Regions from separate parts of the Homo sapiens genome. Here all the other regions are linked to region 3. The links come from fine-mapping of genetic effects on gene expression. A gene starts in region 3. Each other region holds a variant in brackets. All regions are shown on one strand. Distances are from middle to middle.

What was found. PIP is the estimated chance that this variant, and not a neighbour inherited with it, causes the effect.
Region 1: its variant is the best candidate, but not a certain one, in a credible set for the expression of CCDC69 in whole blood (INTERVAL, PIP 0.69).
Region 2: its variant is the best candidate, but not a certain one, in a credible set for the expression of CCDC69 in lung (GTEx, PIP 0.69).
Region 4: its variant is the best candidate, but not a certain one, in a credible set for the expression of CCDC69 in whole blood (INTERVAL, PIP 0.69).

What each region holds. Positions count from the first base shown.
Region 1 is chr5:151,189,849-151,194,999 of GRCh38, forward strand. All of the region lies in intron 4 of CCDC69 (coiled-coil domain containing 69), which reads right to left. Among named protein-coding and RNA genes, the nearest start is that of CCDC69, 32 kb to the right of the region's middle. The variant T/TA (reference allele first, on the strand shown) is at 2,272.
Region 2 is chr5:151,198,289-151,203,439 of GRCh38, forward strand. CCDC69 (coiled-coil domain containing 69) reads right to left here. Exons shown (of 9, transcript NM_015621.3): 3 at 3,294-3,400; 4 at 709-796. Among named protein-coding and RNA genes, the nearest start is that of CCDC69, 23 kb to the right of the region's middle. The variant G/C (reference allele first, on the strand shown) is at 2,851.
Region 3 is chr5:151,221,380-151,226,530 of GRCh38, forward strand. It overlaps CCDC69 (coiled-coil domain containing 69), which reads right to left and starts at 2,713. Exons shown (of 9, transcript NM_015621.3): 1 at 2,544-2,713. The coding sequence starts at 2,591. LOC105378230 (a long non-coding RNA gene) reads left to right here. Exons shown (of 4, transcript NR_160730.1): 4 at 2,097-2,971. RefSeq lists enhancers at 496-715, 2,136-2,245, 2,266-2,465 and silencers at 2,586-2,665, 4,149-4,443.
Region 4 is chr5:151,318,009-151,323,159 of GRCh38, forward strand. SLC36A2 (solute carrier family 36 member 2) reads right to left here. Exons shown (of 10, transcript NM_181776.3): 9 at 4,038-4,207. It also overlaps the pseudogene ATP6V1G1P5. Among named protein-coding and RNA genes, the nearest start is that of SLC36A3, 17 kb to the left of the region's middle. The variant C/G (reference allele first, on the strand shown) is at 2,990.

The sequences.
Region 1 (5,151 bases), 32 kb before region 3:
ATGTTCATAATGTTGGGTTGAGGTCTACCATTTTAGGATGTGTTTTCTGTTTGTTCTCGCTGATCTTTATCCTCTGTTTTCTCTTTCCTGCTTTCTTTTGGAGTACAAAACCATAACAAAAAGCCCAGAATCCCATATGCAGTGAAAATATCCTTCAGGAAAGAAGATTAAATCGAGACATTCTCAGATGAAGGACACTTAGAATTCATCACCAGCAAACCTGCTCTAAAAGAATTGCTAAAGGAAATTCTTCAAATGAAACCAGAGGGAAACTTGAAACTTGAAACTTCAAGAATGTAGGAAGAGTAACAGAACTGGTAAAGACCTAAGTAAATACAATAGACTGTTCTTCCCTTGAGCTCTTTAAAATATGATTGATGATTAAATGCAAAAATTATAACCTTGTCTGATGGGGCATTAGATGTATGTAGATGTAATACATGAGATAAATGTAACAAAAATGGGAGAGAACAGAGGAACCTACATGACGGTAAGCTTTTTACATTCCATTAGATGTGGTAAAATAGCAATTTCAGGCCGGGCGTGGTGGCTCACACTTGTAATCCCTGCATTTTGGGAGGCCAAGGTGGGTGGATCATCTGAGGTCAGGAGTTCCAGACCAGACTGGCCAACATGGTGAAACCCGGTCTCTACCCAAAATACAAAAATTGGCTGGGCCTGGTGGTGGGTGCCTGTAATTTCAGCTACTTGGGAGGCTGAGGTAGGAGAATCGCTTGAACCCAGGAGGCAGAGTTTGCAATGAGCCCAGCTCATGCCATTGCACTCCAGCCTGGGTGACAGAGCAAGACTCTGTCTCAAAAAAAAAAAAAAAAAAAAGGAACTCTAAGTAGATTGTTAAGTATATTGTAATTCTTAGAGTAACCATTAAAAAAAATACAGAGATACAGTAAGAAAGACAATAAATAAGTTAAAATGGAACACTAAAAAATGTTCAAATACTCAAAAAAAAAGCAGGAAAGGGAAAACAGAGGATAAAGATCAGCGAGAACAAACAGAAAACACATCCTAAAATGGTAGACTTCAACCCAACATTATGAACATCAACATTATCAATAACAACAGTAAATTAAATGGCTTAAACATACCAAATAAAACACAGAGTATGTCAGAATGGGTTTTTAAAAACCCACCTGATGGGATCATTCATACCCCAAACCTCAGCATCATGTACTATACCCGTGTAACAAACCTGCATGTGTGTCCTGAATCTAAAATTAAAGTTGAAATTAAAAAAAAAAACCACCCACCAACTAACTACGTGCTATTTACAAGAAACCCACTGTAAATAGATGTTATAGGTAGGTAATAAGTAAAAGGGTGGAAAAAGAAACACTAATCAAAAGAAAGTCATAGTAGCTATATGATTTGCAGATAAAGAACTGAAAGGAGACATAGACAAATATGCATTATAATTGGAGACTTCAACACTCCTCAGCATTCCACATAAAACAGCCTGAAAATCAGCAAGAATATAGAACTGAATACTAACATTAACCAAACTTTATCTAATTGATTTATATCTAAAATACTCAACCCAACAATAGCAGAATACACATTCCTTTCAAGTATACATGAAACAAGATCGACCATACCCTGAGTCATGAAACAAACCTTAACAAACTATAAAAGCAGCAAAATACAAACTATGTTCTCTGACTGTAATGCAATCAAACTGGAAATCAAATAACAGAAAGAGAACCAGAAAATCTCCCAACACTTGGAAATGCACTTCCACATATTCAATGCCAGAGAGGAAGTCTCAAGGAAAATAAGACTGAAAATATTTTGAACTCAACAAAATGAAAATAAAACCATCAATATGTAGGATGCAGGTAAAGCAGAGTTTAGGAGAAAATTTATAGCTTAAATGTTTATATTAGAAAAGGAGAAAGGTCTCAAATCAATATTCTAAGCTGAAGAAATCAGGAAAAGGTATCAGGCCCAGTGACTCACACCTGTAATCCCAGCACTTTGAGAGGCGGAGTCAGGAGGACTGCTGAGACCAGGAATTTGAGACCAGCCTGGGTAACATAGAGAGACCTGCCTCTGTTAAAAATTTAAAAATTAGCTGGCTAGGTGTGGTGGGGTACCTATAGTCTCAACTACTCAGGAGGCTGAGGTGGGAAGATTGCTTGATTCCAGGAGTTTGAGGCTGCCCTGAGCTATGATCATGACACTGTACTCCAGCCTGGGAGACAGAGCAAAACCCTGTCTCAGGAAAAAAAAAAAAAAAAAAAGAATGAAAAGAAA[T/TA]AAAAAAAAAAAAAAGCTAACCAAATATAAAGCAAGCACACAGAAGGAAGGAAATGAAAATAACAGAAACCAGTGAGATGGAAAATGGTAAAATAAGGGGGGTGGGTGGGGAAATCAATGAAACCAAAAGCTGGTTCTTTGAAATAATTAATAAAATTGATAACCTCAAGCAAGACTGACAAAGAAAAGAGAGAACATACACATGACCAATATCAGGAATGAAATATCACTACAGACACAGCAGATATATGAAATGATATTAAGGAAATATGCTGAACAATCCTATGCACCTAGATTCAACAACTTAGATGAATGTAACAATTCTTCAAAAAAAAAAAATGACCAAAACTCACCCAAGGTGAAGTATATAACCTGAAATTCCTTTAAATATTAAAAAGAAATTGAATTTGTTGTTAAACACTTTGAAAGACATGCCCAAGCACAGATTATTTCATTGAAAAATTCGATTAAACATTTAAAAACGATATAACACCAATTCTATATAATCTCTCCCAGAAAGAGAAGATGAGGGGACATTACTACATGGGGCAAGCTTTATCCTGATACTAAAACCAGATAGTGTAAGAAAACTACAGGCCAATATTCCTCATGAACATAGACACAAACATTCTCAGTAAAACATTAGAGGATCAAATTCAGCAATACATAAAAAGAGTAATATAACACAACCAAGTGGAGCTTATGCCAGGAATGCAAGGCTAGTTCAATGCAGTCAGCCTTCTGTATTTGCAGGTTTCCCATCCTCAGATTCAACCAAGTGTGGATAAAAAAAATTTGAAAAAATAAAAATAAAAAATACCAAACAACAATAAAAGATAATACAAATAAAAATACAGTCTAACAACTATTCACCTTACTTTTACATTGTATTAGGTATTATAAGGAATCTAGAGATGATTTAAAATGTATGGAAGGATGTACATAGGTTATATGCAAATAATACGCCATTTTATATAAGTGACTGGAGCATTTGCAGATTTTGGTATCCAAAGTGGGTCCGAGAATCAATTCCCCATGGATACCTAGGGATAACTATATTTGAAAACTCAAACAAATGTAATCCACTATATTAACCATCTAAAGAAAAACCAGGCCAGATGCGGTGGCTCACACCTGCAATCCCAGCACTTTGGGAGGGAAAGGCCAGTGGTTCATTTGAGTTTGAGACCAGGCTGGGCAACATGGCAAAAACTCATTTCTACAAAAAAAAAAAAAAAAAAAAAAAAATTAGCTAGGCATGGTGATGTGCACTATAGTCCCAACTACTTGGGAGGCTGTAGTGGGAGGATCACCTGAGCCCCAGAGGTGGAGGCTGCAGTGAACCAAGATAGCACCACTGCACTCCAGCCTGGGCATCAGAGTGACATCCTGTTGGAAAGAAAAGAAAAGAAAAAAGAAGACAGGAGAGGAGAGGAGAGGGAAAAAAGAGGAAGAAAGAAGAAAGAGAGAGAGAAAGAAAGACCACATGATTATATGGATCTTAGATCTAAATATAAAACCATAAGGCTTTGGAAGAAAACATTGAAGAAAATCTTTGTTACCTGGGGTTTAGCAAAGAGTTCACAGACATGACATAAGAAGTATAATCAAAGAAAAAAATAAATTGGACTTTATCAAAATTAAAAGCTTGGCTTTGTGAAAGACATTATTAACAGAATGAAAAAAATCACCCCACTGGCTAGGAGAAAATATGTGCAAATACAAAGAACTCTTGTCCAAAATATATAAAGATATCTCAAAACTCCACAGTAAGGACAAGCAAGTTAATTTAAATGGGAAAAAGACCTGAACACACATTTGACCAAAGAGGATATGTAGACAGCAAATAAGCACATGAGTTGTTATTGAAATGTAAATTAAACCTATGGTGAAGATTACTGCACACCTATTAGAACAGCTAAAATAAAAAACCAGTGACAGCAAGTATTGGCATGAAGTAGCAACGGTATAACTCATACATCACAGATGGTGATATAAAATAGTGGTCACTCTGGAAGACAGTTTAGCTGTTTCTCATAAAGCTAAACATACATTTATCATATGACCTATCCCACTCCTGTGTATTCACCCAAGATAAATGAAAACCTATGTCCACACAAAGCCTGCACATGAATGTTAGAACAGCTCTATTCATAATTGCCTCAAATGTCCTGCAACAGTGAATGAGTAAACAATGGAATATAACTCCACAATGAAAATGTATGAATTATTGAGATATGCAACAATTGGAATGAATGTCAAAGGCATCGTGATGCATGAAGGAAGCCAATATAAAAAATCATATTGTATTATTTCATTTATGTAATAGCCTAGAAAAGACAAAGCTACAGAGATGGAGAACAGATCAGTAATTGCCAGGGGTTAGGGTGGGAGAAGGATGTGAATACAAGGGTATTTTGAGACGGCTTTTTGGGAGTGATAAAACTGTTGTGTATCCTGATTGTGGCGATGGTTACAAGAATCTATACATGCGGCAGGGCGCGGTGGCTTACACCTGTAATCCCAGTACTTTGGGAGGCCAAGGCGGGTGGATCACGAGGTCAGGAGTTGAAGACCAGCCTGACCAAGATGGTGAAACACTGTCTCTACTAAAAATACAAAAATTAGCTGGGCATAGTGGCACGTGCCTGTAATCCCAGTTACTCGGGAGGCTCAGGCAAAGAATTGCTTGAACCCGGGAGGCGGAGGTTGCAGTGAGCCGAGATCACGCCACTGCACTCCAGCCTGGGTGACAGGGCGAGCCTCCATCTCAAAAAAAAAAAAAAAAAAAAGAATCTATACATGCATTAGAATTTATGAAAATGCACATCCCCTCAAAAAGAGTCAATTTTACTATATGATAATTTAAAAAATAAAAAA
Region 2 (5,151 bases), 23 kb before region 3:
TTGATCTATCTATCTATCTATCTATCTATCTATCTATCTATCTATCTATCTATCTATCTTACCAAACTGGAAAGTTTGATATCTATCTATCTATCTATTTATTTTTAATAGTGACAGCATCTTGCTATGTTGCCCAGGTTAGTCTTGAACTCCTGGGCTCAAGCAATCTATCCACCTTGGACTCTCAAAGTGCCAGGAATACAGGCGTGAGCCACAATGCCCAGCCAAGAATGAGACGTTAACCACTGTGCTGTAAGATCTTTTTGTCTAATCTACAGTTTCCAAATTTTCTGTGATGATCACCTTTGGTGATATAAGAGGAAAGAAAGTCATTTTTCAAAATAATCAATCTAACAATAAATAAGAGCTACCATCATCGTGGGGATGGAATATGTGTATTTAAAAATTCTTCTATTTGTCTGGGTTTTCCAAATTTCCCTTAATAAATATGGATTGCTTTTTAAATGGAAAGAAAAAAATACCTCTCAAATAAGGAAAAAGAAAGGTTGATGCCAGCCTCTTAAATCCATGCCCCAAAGGAAAAGTCCATCAACCCTCTAGGGCCAAGGATCCTGTAGATTTGAGTCAATTGCTTGTGGATCAGACAGACAGGGAGGGAACAGTGGGAGTGCCCAGGTGAACTGGGCAGGTGGGGCCAGAAGGAAGCACCCCCCACCACCTTGGCCAGTGGAACATCTCTACCCTTACCTTGCAGGGCCTCTTCATTCTTTCCTTCCAGGACCCTTTGCTGCTCATCCAGTCTGTCTCGAAGCTCTAGCTCCCTTTCCTTCTCCACCTGGGGGCAGAGAGTCCCGGGCAGGACTGAGATTGAGCAGGATCAGCACAGCATCTCTTATCCCCTCACCTGGGCCTACGTGGAACTTGGTGACCAGAGTCCTAACCCTTCCTCTGAGGGATGGGAATGACACGCCCAGAAAGGACACAAGACTTCCAAGACACAGCAAGCGTGGCAGAATTTGCCTTCTTTAGGGTTTAGCAGGGGGTTCCCATGTAATTATCCACATGGAAAAGGATTTAGGAGTATTCTAATCCTGATGCTTCCTCAAGGCAGGAAGCCTCCCATGGTGTTTCTCTGCTTGCGTAAGGCTTACTGTTTCAAGTGACCTCCAACTTCTACCATCAGGTCCCAGATCTGCCCTCTGGGGTCACACAGAGCCAGACTGTTCCCTCAACCCAGGCAGCCCCTCAGAGATCTGAGCATAGTGGCCCATATTCCCAACATTTCTCTTCCCCAGGCTGAACCCTCCCAGCCATTCTCATTGTCCCCCACTTGAGATGTTTTCCAGTCCCTTTGCCACCTGTAAGGTACAGCTGATGGGGCATATCCAGAGGCAAGGCATGACTTAAATTAGGCATTCTAGCCCCAGCATACCACTGAGTTCCTGGGTAATGAGCTCCCTCCACTGTATAATGAAGGGACTCAACTTGACAATACCTGGGGCCCTTACAAGTCTCAAGGTTAAGGATTCCACAGGTAATGGTCAGGGCCAAATGACATTACCATGGTAACTCTACCAAAACAAACTAAAGACCAGCAGCTGCATACAGTTAACTTACCTTTCATAAAAGGTGTGTTTCTGAAAAATGCGTCTAAGCTAAAACCATTTTAATGTGTGTGGGGGCACTTGCCACAGCCTTCCACCCAGCGAACACCTGAGGGCAGGGTCTGGACCCGATTTCTCCCTGTACCCCTGGCAGTGCTGAGGCCGCACCCTCCCCGCACATAGTAATCTCCCCCAGCAAGTCGACTGGGTGAATAAAATCTAGCAGAAAATCTTTCAGTAATAAATAACCATGTGATTTAATAGAGTGATTAGTTTATAACTACGGAGACTTTTTTTTTTTTTGAGATGGATTCTTGCTCTGCCACCCAGGCAAGAGTGCAGTGGTGAGATCTCAGCTCACTGCAACCTCTGCCTCCCAGGTTCAAGTGATTCTCCTGCCTCAGCTTCCCAAGTAGCTGGGATTACAGGCATGTGCCACCAGGCTGGGCTAATTTTTGTATTTTTGTAGAGACGGTGGTCTCGCCATGTTGCCCAGGCTGTTCTCGAACTCCTGACGTCAGGTGATCTGCCTGCCTCGGCCTCCCAAAGTGCTAGGATTATAGGCATGCCTGGCCCAGATCTATCTTAAAGCAGTGACTTTAAATTTCAGAATTTTGAATATTTACCCTGAACATATTTCATATTTATAATTTAAACTAAAGAAAATTTAGAGAAAACTTGTGTACACCACCAAATCTTTCCTGCTGCTCTACCCATTCCCTCTGGTAAAGGAAGAAATGGAGGCAAAGAGAGGTGAAGGGTGAGTGACCAAGTTAGAATGAGGAAAAGGAAATCCTGGGCTGCAGGTTACATTCAGTCATCCCATCACTTTAGTGTCCTTCAATCTAGAATTGTTCCCCAGTCTTTCCTCATGTTTCATGGCCTTGACATTTGACTAATATAGGCTGGAAATTCTGTAGAATGTCCCTCAATTTTCATTTCTGGGTAATTTTAAAGCCTCCGTGTCATCCCTTTAGAGAAGCCTTCTCTGATCCCACAGCCTTGGTTAAGGGTTCTATTATGTCCTTTCACGGCACTGTAAACTTTTCATAGCACTTATATTTGCAGTAAGTATTTCTGTGTAATTGTGTTTAGCATCTGATGTCCCATCTCAGTCATATAAGCTAAATTATGCTGCCATAACAAACAATGACAAAGTCTCAGTGGCTTAAGACAAAATGTTTATTTTGCCCTCACTACCTACCCATTTTGTGTGGCAGGGAGCTCTGCTGCCAGGGATTATCCAGGATTATCCAGGGATAATCACCCAGAGATCAGGCTGATA[G/C]AGCGGCCATTACAACAGTCCCGTCACTTAGCTAGACAGAAAGACCTTGAGGGTCTTGAACTGGCAACTAAATGCTTGCCCTAGAAGTGACACTGGTTCTTCTTTCTATAACGCATCAGCCAGAACGAGTTCCGTGGTCCCACCCAACCATGAGGTGGGCCCAGAAAGGCAATTAATCTAGTGGCATCAACAGCTTTTACTCTTCCCAAATAGACTCTCAGCTTCGTGAAAGCAGCTGCCAGCTCTGCTTGTTTTAACCAATGTGCCCAGCACACAGTGCCCTGATAAAAATATGTGTTCAACAGATAAAGGACTCCCTTCCTGGTAAAATGAGTAAGGGACTCTTACAACAGCAACAAAAACCTAAGGTAGGCACTCACTCTGGGATTCACCAAAGTTAGCTGAGCAGGAGAAAGACAGGGGGTGGGGGCACCTGGACTTACCTGTTGTGCCCATTTCTTCTTTTCCTCCTCATGTTGCTGGAGAATTCTGGTTATATCCTTCTGGTGCCGCTCAGCCTCCTCTGATGCACAGAGCTGGACAGTTATAGCTAGAGATGAAAAAGCAAAAAAATAAAAATAAAAAAACTCACAGAGTGGAAGTACAGTCAGAGCTGGCAGAGAGAGTGTGGGAAATGGGGCTAAGGGATGAGAACCCTGGTCTCTGCCTCAAGAATGATTTCGGGTGGGACCAGTCTCCAGAGACAGCCCCTCGAGTCTCTTTGGACTTGGAGATCCTCTTTCAAGGAATAAGCCAATGGTCTCATTTTGTCTTCTGGTCTCTGCCTCAAGAATGATTTCGAGTGGGACCAGTCTCCAGAGACAGCCCCTCGAGTCTCTTTGGACTTGGAGATCCTCTTTCAAGGAATAAGCCAATGGTCTCATTTTGTCCTCTGGTCTCCCTGTTCTACCCCATTTTTTAAAAAATTAGTCGCTGGCCAGACATGGTGGCTCACACCTGTAGTCCCAGCACTTTGGGAGGCTGAGGTGGGAGGAGCACTTGAGACCAGGAGTTGGAGACCAGACTAGGAAACATAGTGAGACCCTATCTCTAAAAAAAAAAAAAAAAAAAAAAAAGCTGGGCATGATGGCATGCACCTGCAGTCCCAGCTACTAGGGAGACCAAAGCAGGAGGATGGTTTGAGCACAGGAGTTCAAGGCTGCAGTAAGCTATGACTGCATCACTGCACTCCAGTCTGCGCAACAGAGCGAGATCCTGTCTCTAAAATAATAATAATAATTTAAAAATTAGTTGTTGATACTTAATAACTGGGAAGCTTTTACTTAATAATTCTGATTTCCAATTTTTCTTGAAGAATCCAAAGAAGAACTGGCAATGTATGCCTTCATGTCAACCAGGGGCTGGAGCCAGAAGCAGCTGCCTCCTCTTTGGCCGGCCAGGATAGGGCTCTGCAGTTGGCTATAGTCTTCACCTCCTGCTGTTATTAAAAATGTATACAAAGGGCCACATGTCATTTGCTTTACCTGCTGGGGCCCATGAGCATCTGAGTTTGTGGCCCCTCACCTTTAGCGTCTCCTCAGCTGGTAGTAGAGGGTGCTACTTGAGAGCAGGAAGGAAACACAAACAGGAAGTCTAGCCCCTGCTTCGGGAAACTCCAAAACAGGACCTGCCAATGCCACACTGAGTCTATCAGATACTAGGTATGACCTAAGGCAGTGGCCATCCTCTCTGTGCCTCAGTTACCTAATACATGGGATCAGGATAATTATGGCACCTACCACATGAGTGAGGCTGAGATGATTAAATCAGGAAACAATGGCAATAAAAATAGTAAAAGCAGGATAGGAGGACTGAGAGCTTACCATGCCTGCAACATGTCCAGCACTGTTCCAAGTGCCTCAGAGGGATGACTCACCTGCTCCTCACAGCTACCCTATAGTCGTGAGTAATATTATTACCCCCATGCTACAGACGAGGAAGCTGAGGCTCAGAGGAGTCATGCAACTTGTTCAAAGTCACCCAGTTCAAAATTAAGGGAGCAGGGATATGAACCTACACAATCTGTTTCCACAGCAAATACTCCTAACTACCACCTTATCCTGCTTGCTTGTGCACAAAAGGAAATGTAGGCCAGGCGCGATGGCTCACACCTGTAATCCCAGCACTTTGGGAGGCCGAGGTGAGCAGATCACTTAAGGTCAGGAGTTCGAGACCAGCCTGGCCATGGTGAAGCCCCGTCTCTACCAAAAATACAAAAAAATTTAGGTGGGCATGGTGGCAGGCGCCTGTAATCCCAGCTACTCGGGAGGCTGAAGCAGGAGAATTGCTTGAACCTGGGAG
Region 3 (5,151 bases):
AACTCCTGCCATACCTTCCAAACCACCCTTCCTCAAAAACCCTTCCTGCATCTCTCAAGGCTAGATGTGATGCTCCTACTGCTCCCTGGGCCAACCCCTAGCATGGCTCTTATTTGTCCCTCATTCACTCAAATATCTACTTAAGCACCTGCTCCATGATCTGTATAAGGCAATGAGCACCAGATGGGGAGTGCAGAAAGCCAGGCTCAACTGCACAGCTTTGCCACCAACTGGCTGTGTGACTTTGGACCCATCGTTCCTCACTGAGCCTCAGTTTCCCCGGTAAAGTGGGAAAGATTCTGCAGCTCAGCCTAACTTCCAGGGCTTCTGTGAGACTGGGCGGGATGTGAAAGCATGCTGTAAACACTCAGGGTGAGTCATGGTTATCAGAACCTAACCCCTCTGTAGCCTGAGCTCATTTTTGTCCATCCCATCCCTGGAGTCCCCCTCTCTCCCAGGGGGCTGGTAGCCTGTTGGGGATGAACTTGGGAGCTCATGCCTTCCAAGGGGTTGGCACCTGGGTGAGAAATTGGGCAGGAGCACAGCCTACAGGGATGAGAACTTTAAACAAAAACAGCCCATAAATCTTGCCATATAGGGGCAGGGGCCTGGCATGGCTGGGGCCAAGAAGGCATGCCAGGCTGTTCTCTGAGGCAACAGGAGTAAAAGATTTTACGCTAAAGTCATCAAGAAGCCACTGGAAGCACAGCGGGAGGAGGTGGAGACAAAGAACACGGAGCTAGGGGACTAGATACCTGGGTTCTGCTCTGTGTTGCTCTGTGACCTCAGTCATGCTCCTTCCCTTTTCTAGGCCTTAACCTCCTATCTGTATAGTGGGTGCGTCAGCCCAGGTAGTACCCAAAGGCCCTTTCCAACTCAGACAGGCTGTGCCAGCTTTACTTGCCCTTCAGAGCTTTGGCTGTGCCAGGGACAGGCAGGAACAGCTGGTAAGTCTCTCAGAAGGAGCAGGAGCCAAAGAACCTGTGCTTACTGTGACCTCCTCTTCCAGCTTGTGGAAGGGTCAGGCTCTTCCCCGTTTCCTCCACCTCTAGGTAGATGGAATTCACCCTTGGTCCACTTTGCAAGCTACAAGGTTGACACAGGTGCAGAGAACACAGACTCTCAGATGCTTAGGGATCATCCTGCTCATCACTCCCCATACAGGGAGAAACTGAGACCCAGGGAGACACAAGGGCTTGCTTGGGGTCACCCAGTATGTTTATGGCACCACCAGGACTTACACCCAGGGCTAATGTCTGCCTACCACTTGCTCAGTTACAAGTCTCAGCCAAGGCTCAGGTCTCTCCGCCTTGTCATCCCTGTCAGCCAGCCCCTTCCTTCTACTGATAGAGCCAAGCCTCAGTTTCCCTGTTGGAGTGAGTAAAGACATGAGGGTTTCTAGGTCAGGAGTTGGTGAGAATTTCAATCTGGTAATAAAGGGAGAGCAAGGAAAGCCAGGAGGTGTCAGAGAAGGGAGTAGAATCCTCCAGGCTAGGACTACTGTTAGGCAGAAAAACCTGTACTCAGGGCACAAGCAAAGCAGGAGCAGAGGGAGGACTAAAGTTCATTGCAAAACTATTAAACACTGTCACAGTTTGGGGCCTCTCAAGGTCTCAAGGGGGAATGATGATAAAGTTTAAGGGATCACCTAGTCCCACCTGGCTAGGGGGCAGGTAGTGGTAAGAAAAGGGGCCAGAATTTGAGGGTCCTTCTTCCCCTCTGCCTCACAGTGTCCCCTGAGGAGGCTATCTTTCTAGCTCCAGGCTCTGACCTTCTGGGCTCGTCAGACCCCAAGGGGCAGCTGGTCTCACTGCAAGAAACCTGAGAATTGTCCCCTGGGCCCTGACCCAGCTCCAAGGCCCCTTGGGGGAAGGACAGGAAGGGAGGAGAGGGCCACAGAACGCAGTAGATCTCCTCCCTCTTTGGCCCCTCCCAGCTACCCCAAGGGCAGCCCACACTCACCAGCTCTGGGGCCTGCAAGAGCCCTAAGACCAGCGCCTCAAACTTTAAAGCGTCATCACCTGGGCATATTGTTAAAAGGCAGCTTCTGTCTTGGCAAGACTGGGCCTGAGCCTGAGATTCTGCATTTCTGACAGGTCCCCAGGGATGCTGATACTGCGAGTCTGTGGAACACTCTTCGAGCAGCCCTGAGATTATCAGCCTTTAACCCCCGGGGGGAGGAAGCCGAAGGCCCAGAGAGGTCAAGTCACTTGTCCATGGCCACACAGCGAACAGCCCCAGACCGAAAGCAGAGGGCACCTGCCACAGACACACGACATCTCCCCACCCGAGGCAGCGGGAATCAGCTGCCTTTCCCTGGCCCGGGTGCCGTGTTTGTAAACTCGGCTGCTTGGTGCGGCTCGGGCCGGGGTAAAGGGCGCCTCCCAGCAGAGCCTCCCTCGTCTCTGAGCTGGCCTCTCCAGGTTCTCCGTCCGGTATCCCGGGCCGACCAGAGAGAGCCCGGGGCGCCGAGTCCTCTGCGGCGGAGCGATTCCGCACTCCCCTCTCCTCTGAAAGCAAACTTCTCCGCCGGCGCCCTTTACCTTTTTCGGGGGTTTGCAGCTGCTCAGCCTGCTGTGTCTGCAGCCCATCCTCCTCCGGGGGCTCCCGGACGCCGCTTCCCAACTCCGGGGCCCCCAGAGGAGCCTGCGATCCGGGCCCCGCTGCCCGCTCCGCGCCCGCCGGCTGGGGCTGCCGGCGAGACCCTGAAACTGAACCTGGAAGCGCTGTCTTGAGCCTGAGCTGGGGCGGCCGCCCGCCGTAAATACCCGAAGAGCGGGGCCTCAGTGTAGCCCGCAGGGCCAGCGGCGCCGCCACCAGAGGCAGGTGACCAGAATCCTTCTAAATAATAGGAAGCTCTGGTCAGGGCAGAAGAAAAGAAAACCTCAAGGAGCAACAGATGCTTTTCCGAACCCTCAGCTAAGAAAGGGCCGGGGGAAAAAATAATTAAAGCAATTATTTGATAAACTAACAACTATCATTCATTGAGGGCTGTTTTTGTCCCAGTTGTTTTATACATTTTATTTCTATTTCTTGCCATATCAGTGCAACAAAGGTATTACTTCCTCCATTTTACAGGTGAGGAAAATGGTGTTCAGAGATGCAACATGATTTGCCTAAGGTCACATGGCTAGTAAGTTACCACAGCCCAGATAGAATCCAGTTCCTTTTTTTTTTTTTTTTTTGCCGCTATCATAGTTCACTGCAGCCTCAAACTCCTGGGCTCAAGCGAGCCTCCCAGCTCAGCCTCCTGAGTAGCTGGGACTACAGAGGCTCACCACCATACCCAACCAAATTCTTTTCTTTTTTCCAGTCTGATTTTGAACGACCGCCCTCAAGCGATCCTCCCACCCTGGCCTCCCAAAGCGTTGGGATTACAGGCATGAGCCACTGCACAGAATACAGTTCTAACTCCAGAACCTAAACTTTGACTCAATGGCCTACAAATAAATCATAATACTAAGTTTATTGTATTTATTTATTTTTGAGACAGAGTCTCGCTCTATTGCCCAGGCTAGAGTGCAGTGGCACGATCTTGGCTCACTGCAACCTCTGCCTCCCAGGTTCAAGTGATTCTCCTGCCTCAGCCTCCCCAGTAGCTGGGATTACAGGCATGCACCACGACACCCAACTAATTTTTGTATTTTTAGTAGAGACAGAGTTTCACCATTTTGACCAGGCTGATCTCAAACTCCCAACCTCAGGTAATCCGCCCGCTTCGGCCTCCCAAAGTCCTGGGATCCCACACCTGGCCAATAATACTAAGTTTAATTTTAATGCCTCCTCACTTCTGGGCTGATAGTTTTTTCCACCTCACAAGCATCTGTAATATTTGACTCTATCCATCTTGGATAGATGTTATTCATCACAACAACCTCTTGAGGCAGGCCAGGTATGGTGACTATGGGACATAAAATGTCAGTGTCTAGGAAAAGGAGCTTTTGTTTATCTTCTCTTTGTTATTAGCTGAGGTTTCTGAAATGGCAATGCAGGAAAAAGATAACCAATTTTGAAAATCAGTGTGTATGCCTATTTGCGTGTATATTGGAATATTAAAGTCAGGCCCAAAACTCTTGGAAAGGTGTGCTGTGAAAACGGCTTAGAGTCATGAATGGGGAAAGAATATGAGACCTCAAAAAAATTGCTCCCTCCATAGGGTACAAAACCAATTGCAAAAGTGTGTAAGAAAGGAAACTAAGGAAACGTGTTATTAGGTTCTCAAAAGCAAGTATAATAGAGAATGGTGGCTCACAAAGTGTGATTCCCAAATCAGCAGTGTCAGCACTACCAGCCGCCTTTGTTGGAAATGCAAATTCTCGGGCCCCACCCCTGGCCTAAACTCTGGGGATGGGGCTTAGGAATCTATGGCTTCATAAGCACTCCACTCATGTCTGGCCTGGGCTAAAGTTTGAGAACCCCTGCCATAGGACGTGCTCCACAGGTACTGAAGAAACAGGATATACTTAAATTATACTAAAATTAACAATGTTTATTGGAACAGTGCTCATGATTAAAAACAAAGAACCCAAAACAACCTAAACAGCCAAGAAAAGAAGGTTGGTTAAATACATTATGCTATATCCATAAAAATAGAATGCCACATAACCAGCAAAAATACTGATGAAGATGAATTTTTTGTGTTACAAAACATAACAAACTCATTTTCATTAAAAAAAAAAATTGAGTGACTACCACTGTATTGGTGAGATTTTGAAATTTTAAAACAGTTTTTTTTTTTTTGAGACAGGATCTTGCAATATCACCCAGGCTGGAGGGCGGTGGAGTGATCATGGCTCACTGCAGCCTCAGTCTTCCAGGCTTAAGTGATCCTCCCACCTGAGCCTCCCGAGTAGCTGAGACCACAAGTGCCTGCCACCAAGCCTAGCTAATTTAAAAAAAAAAAATTTTGTAGGCCAGGCACAGTGGCTCATGCCTGTAATCCCAGCACCTTGGGAGGCTGAGGTGGATGGATCACCTGAGGTCAGGAGTTCGAGACCAGCCTGACCAATATGGTGAAACCCTGTCTTTACTAAAAATACAAAAATTAGCCGGATGTGGTGATGTGTGCCTGTAGTTTCAGCTACTCAGGAGGCTGAGACAGGAGAATTGCTTGAATCCGGGAGGCAGAGGTTGCAATGAGCCTAGATTGTG
Region 4 (5,151 bases), 97 kb after region 3:
TAAAATTTGTTAAACAGTTAGTAATTCCCATGATAATGCTAAGTCTCTTTTCTGGCTCTAAACTTCCCAGAGAAGGGATTTATGGCAGCTATATTTGTCAGGAGGTCCCGCTTACATCAGCAAAAGAAGATTAGACAAAGTTTCTTTCTGCAGCTTCTTTTTGTTCAGGCATTTTTAGCTTAAAATAATCTTTATGCTACCGAGGTGCATTTTGGATCCTTACATATCCAACAAAACTTAAGCTCTTACTTAATAAATAACACTAAATAACAGTGCTGGGAACCATTCAAGCTGTTTGGAATATATCAATGTACAAACTGTCAATGTTTGTACTATCAAAATTTGTATCAATGTACAAATTTTTTAGAAGTCTTCTAAAATGCCTAGCATTTTAATAAATAAAAAATAATATAAATAATATAAATAAATAATACAAATTTATTATTTATTTTATATATAAATAAAATATATTTTATATATTTTATCTATAATAAAAATAAATAATAAATAAAAATATAATAATTATTTATAAATATTTATTTATAAAATATATTTTTATATATAATAAATATTTTATATATATAAAAATATAATAAATATAAATAATATAAATAAATAAATTATTTTTTAAAATGCCTAGAATTTTAATAAATAATTAACATGAGTATAAGAACCTTTTACTTGCAAACAATTAGAATATGAAATTATTTATAATACAAAGAGATCTTCAGTTGGAAGAAAATCCGGGAGGTGTCTTTAAAGAAGTGTCTTCTCCAGGTTTTATACACATGTCAGAAAACCCCTAACAAAGAAACACGAAAAGCTAAAAATTTTGAAATTATATTTTTTTAGCAGGACGTTTTACAGACCTGGGCTTTTACATTTTTTATTATATTTGATGAAAAATGTTCCTGGTCACCAATAAATCCCAGGAGCCTTGAGCAGGCCTCCTTTGGAGGAGTGTGGTAGAACAGAACAGGTCTGGAAGGCAGGAGTCTGGTTCATTCTTGTATGGCCTTGCCCAAGTCCCACCCCTTCCTCAGCTTGTTTCCTCAGCTGCAAAATGGAGATGAAGGCTACTATCCTTTTAGGTATTGTGATTCATTCTGCATAGGACATAAAAGTCTTCAATGAGATTTTTCATGTAAAGCATTCAGAAAAGTTATCTTTGCTATTACTCCAAGTTATTTACTCATACATGCTAATTGACAATGCATGAAGAAGTGTAGTGTAGGCTTAAGGGATTGTTATCTTTATACTGTGGGGCAAATTCCTTGATCTGTCTGGAATATGTAAGATACTGGATAGTTCCTGCATTCAAGGTCAAATTGAGAACTAATCACTTCAAAAAAAGAAAATCAGTGTCGAATGAATGCTGTGGGCTGGCCTAGAAAAGTGAAAATCAACAGCCACTTCAGCCAGTCTCAGGGGATCCAGCAGCTGCTGCAGGCCAAGATGCAGCCACTGAGAAGGTGTCCAAGTGTGAGCAAAAACATAGAGGCTGAAGCAGGCCAAGGAAGCAGCTGAGGCTTCAACTGCTGAACTGAAACTGAACAGCACTGCCTGCAGAGGGAGAAAGAGTTCAAGACCAAGGAAGCTGCAGCCCTGGAATCTCACAGCAGCCTTGGCACTGAAGTGGCACAGGAGGGTCAGAAGAAGAGGACCAGCCTCCAGAACTACTTCCAGCAGAATGGGGGTGAAGGCTTGGCTAGTCTCTTGGCTTTTGTCTGTGACACCTGGACAGAAATCCATGAAAACTGCTGCATAAATGAAGAAGAGTGGGAGAAAGAAGCGCCTGTACCACAGATTGGCATTTTAGATGCCCTCGAGGAATATGCAGCTTGAGATATATTCTTATGAAAAGGCATTAAATGATTTCTGTATATTATATAGCAGGTCCCTTCACATCTCAGAGAATATAAAATCTAGCTTCTTTGTACAGACTTAGAACTTATCTATAGATTTTCTTTTTACATCGTATTTCGTAGAAATTTAATGGGTATATGTCATGTTTTCCCATGCCTATTAGCTGAAGTAACATATGTATCAGTGTATCAATGTTGACTTTTTCTTTCTTTTTTCTAGTAAAAAAAAGTTCTTTGAAGAAGAAAGAGATTAATATTTTTTTTTTCCCTGTAGTGCTTTCTTGAATGTCAGGATTCTAACCATGAAAAAGTAGTAAATGGTTATTTGTAATCTGTGTGAAGCAGCAGCCACCCTTAAATTAGTCCATTCCTGCTAATGGTTAGAATAATGAATACTAGCATAACTGTTTGGGCTGCTTTTAGTTTCTCTGAATCAAAATTACTAGATGGTAGAATTCAAAAACTCGTTACATGTTATTACTCGGTGTACTGATAATTATCTAAAAGTAACACTTTGTTATGCAAAAAAAAAAGAATTTCCTAAATTTCCATGGACAGATGAATGGATAAAGAAAATGTGGTTTCTACGTACAGTGGAATACAATTTGGCCTTAAAAAGAAGACACTTTTGCAATTACAATCAAAAGGCATCTTAGGGACAGCTGGGCCACCTCTACTCTACACAGGAATCTCTAGCCATCTCCTTCGGCCTCTGGTGGAATACTTGCAGAAAGGGGTACTCCGGGTCATGGGGGCTGCTGTGAGCCAGGGAGTGGGAATGACCTCAGCCAATAGGCAAGCACAGGACCGTCCAGGGGTCAAGGAGCCCCAGCTGATTGTTGCCGATGGGGAATGTGATCCCAGCCTTGCCCAATCATTTTATAGTAGCCCCACCAAAAAATTTTAAAAATCTGCATTTGTATGGAGATTGCCCACATTTTAAATGTTGGCCCACTTTATACAACATTGTGAGGTTCAAACAACACCTGTTGCCAAATTAGAGTCCCATTTTCAATGTCTGCCCTGGAGGTGAAGGGCACTGGCTCTAGACTTACATGACTTGAATTCAAATCCTACCTCTGACACTTTCTGGCCAATTATTAATCACTCACTGCCTCAGTTTT[C/G]TCTTTCATAAAGTAGGGTTTATCATAGTTCTACCTCATGATAATTGTTGTGAGGACTGAATAAAATATTATGAAATCTAGACTAGAAAGAGCTGAACACAGTGCCTGGCACACAGTAAGTGTTCAATACATGTCAGTTCTTATGATTTATTTATTTATTTATTTATTTATTTATTAATATATTTGAGACAGGGTCTGACTCTGTTGCCCAGGCTGGAGTGCAATGGTTCAATCTCAGCTCACTGCAGCCTCAGCCTCCTGGGCTCAAGCAATCTTCCCACCCTAGCCTCCCAAGTAGCTGGGACTACAAACATGGGGCACCCATGCCTGGCTATTTTCTTTTCTTTCTTTTTTTTTTTTTTTTTAATAGAGATGGGGTTTCACCATGTTGTCCAGGCTGGTCTCAAAACTCCTGAACTCAAGCAATCCGCCTGCCTTGACCTCTCAAAGTGCTGGGATCACAGGCATGTGCCAGAGTGCGCAGCAAGTTCTTACAGTTATTGTTTGATAAGCTGTGTCAATCCCTTAGGCTGAACACCAACAAATCTGTCTAATTAGGTACATGTAAGAATGGGGTTGTTTAGATGAGTGAATACTTGTAAAGCTTTAAAATGGTCCCTGGAATACAGTAAGTGCTCAGTAAATGCTGATTGTCATGACTGCCCTCTACCATCTGACTGATTCTTTTTTTTTTTTTTTTGAGATGAATCTTGCTCTGTTGCCCAGGCTGGAGTGCAGTGGCACGATCTCGGCTCACTGCAACCTCTGCCCTACATGTTCAAGTGATCCTCTTGCCTTGGTTCTTGAGTAGCTGGGATTACAGGCACGTGCCACCACGCCTGGTTAATTGTTGTATTTTTAGTAGAGACAGGGTTTCACCATTTTGGCCAGGCTTGTCTGAAACTCCTGACCTCAGGTGATCCACCCGCCTCGGCCTCCCAAAGTGCCAGGATTACAGGTGTAAGCCAATGCATCCGGCCCATCTGGCTGATTCTTTATAGCCCTCAGAAAAGATCAGCAGGAACACTGCACTCTCCTTTCTACTCACATGTCAGGCAGACCATGACGAGGCGAATGGACAGATCCAGAGGCAGTGCCCAGCGTGTTGACACCCGGGAGATGGCAAAGGGGATGATGATTTCTGCAGGGACGTAGAACTGCAGGGCATAGGTGCACAGGATGCCGGCAATGTAGAGAAGCTTGACAGACTGGTACAGCCTGCAAGACAAACCACAGAGCTGCTCTCCACGGCCACTGTGTTCTGACACTGGCCTCCTTGGAACATTAACCTCTGACCTTGGGACAATGACTTGGGCTTTTGTTTCCCTTTCTGAAAATGACTGAGAGGGACCTTCTAAGAATCAAGAGGGAGTCACAGCAGAGCATGCAGTGAAAATAGTGCGGTTCTGGATTCAGTGGAAACAATGGAAAGGGTCATTTCTAAATGAAATAAAAACCATCTTGAGCTTGAGTATGTATTGCACCTTCGCAAATCGCTACCATCTGATGCTCAATCTTATGTTTTAAAAAAGAGAGGCTCAGGCTCAGGCCAGATACTTTGCCCAGGGAGACACAGATGATAAGTGGCTAAGACCAAAAGCCCTGGATCTAAAAGACTCTAGTCCTTTGTGATCAGTCCTTAGGAATTATCTGGATTCCCCAAAGCTCTAGGCACATAACTGTTGCCTCTAGTTGAGAGAACTGCAGAATCCCAAATCCTTGGAAGAAGAGACAGTTTATAAATAGGGTTGTGTGGAAGTTAGGGGGAGTCAGGGTGGAATATAAGGAGAAACAGGGGTACTTGCCAGCCTCAAGCTAGGGGCAGAGTGTGTGTGAGGCTTCAAGGGATATTGAGTTCTATCTAAGTTTTTTTTCTATTTGATCTATTGAGATGTGACTGTTTTCCTTCAGTCCACTAATGCAGTAGATGCATTTCCATGTTTAATAAATGTGTGATGCTGGGCACAGTGGCTCACGCCTATAATCCCAGCACTTTGGGAGGCCGAGGGCGGTGGATCACCTGAGGTCACGAATTTGAGACCAGTCTGGCCAACATGGCGAAACCCTACCACTACCAAAAATAAAAAATTACCCACGTGTGGTGGTGCACACCTGTAATCCCAGCTACTTGGGAGGCTGAGGCAGGAGAATTACTTGAACCC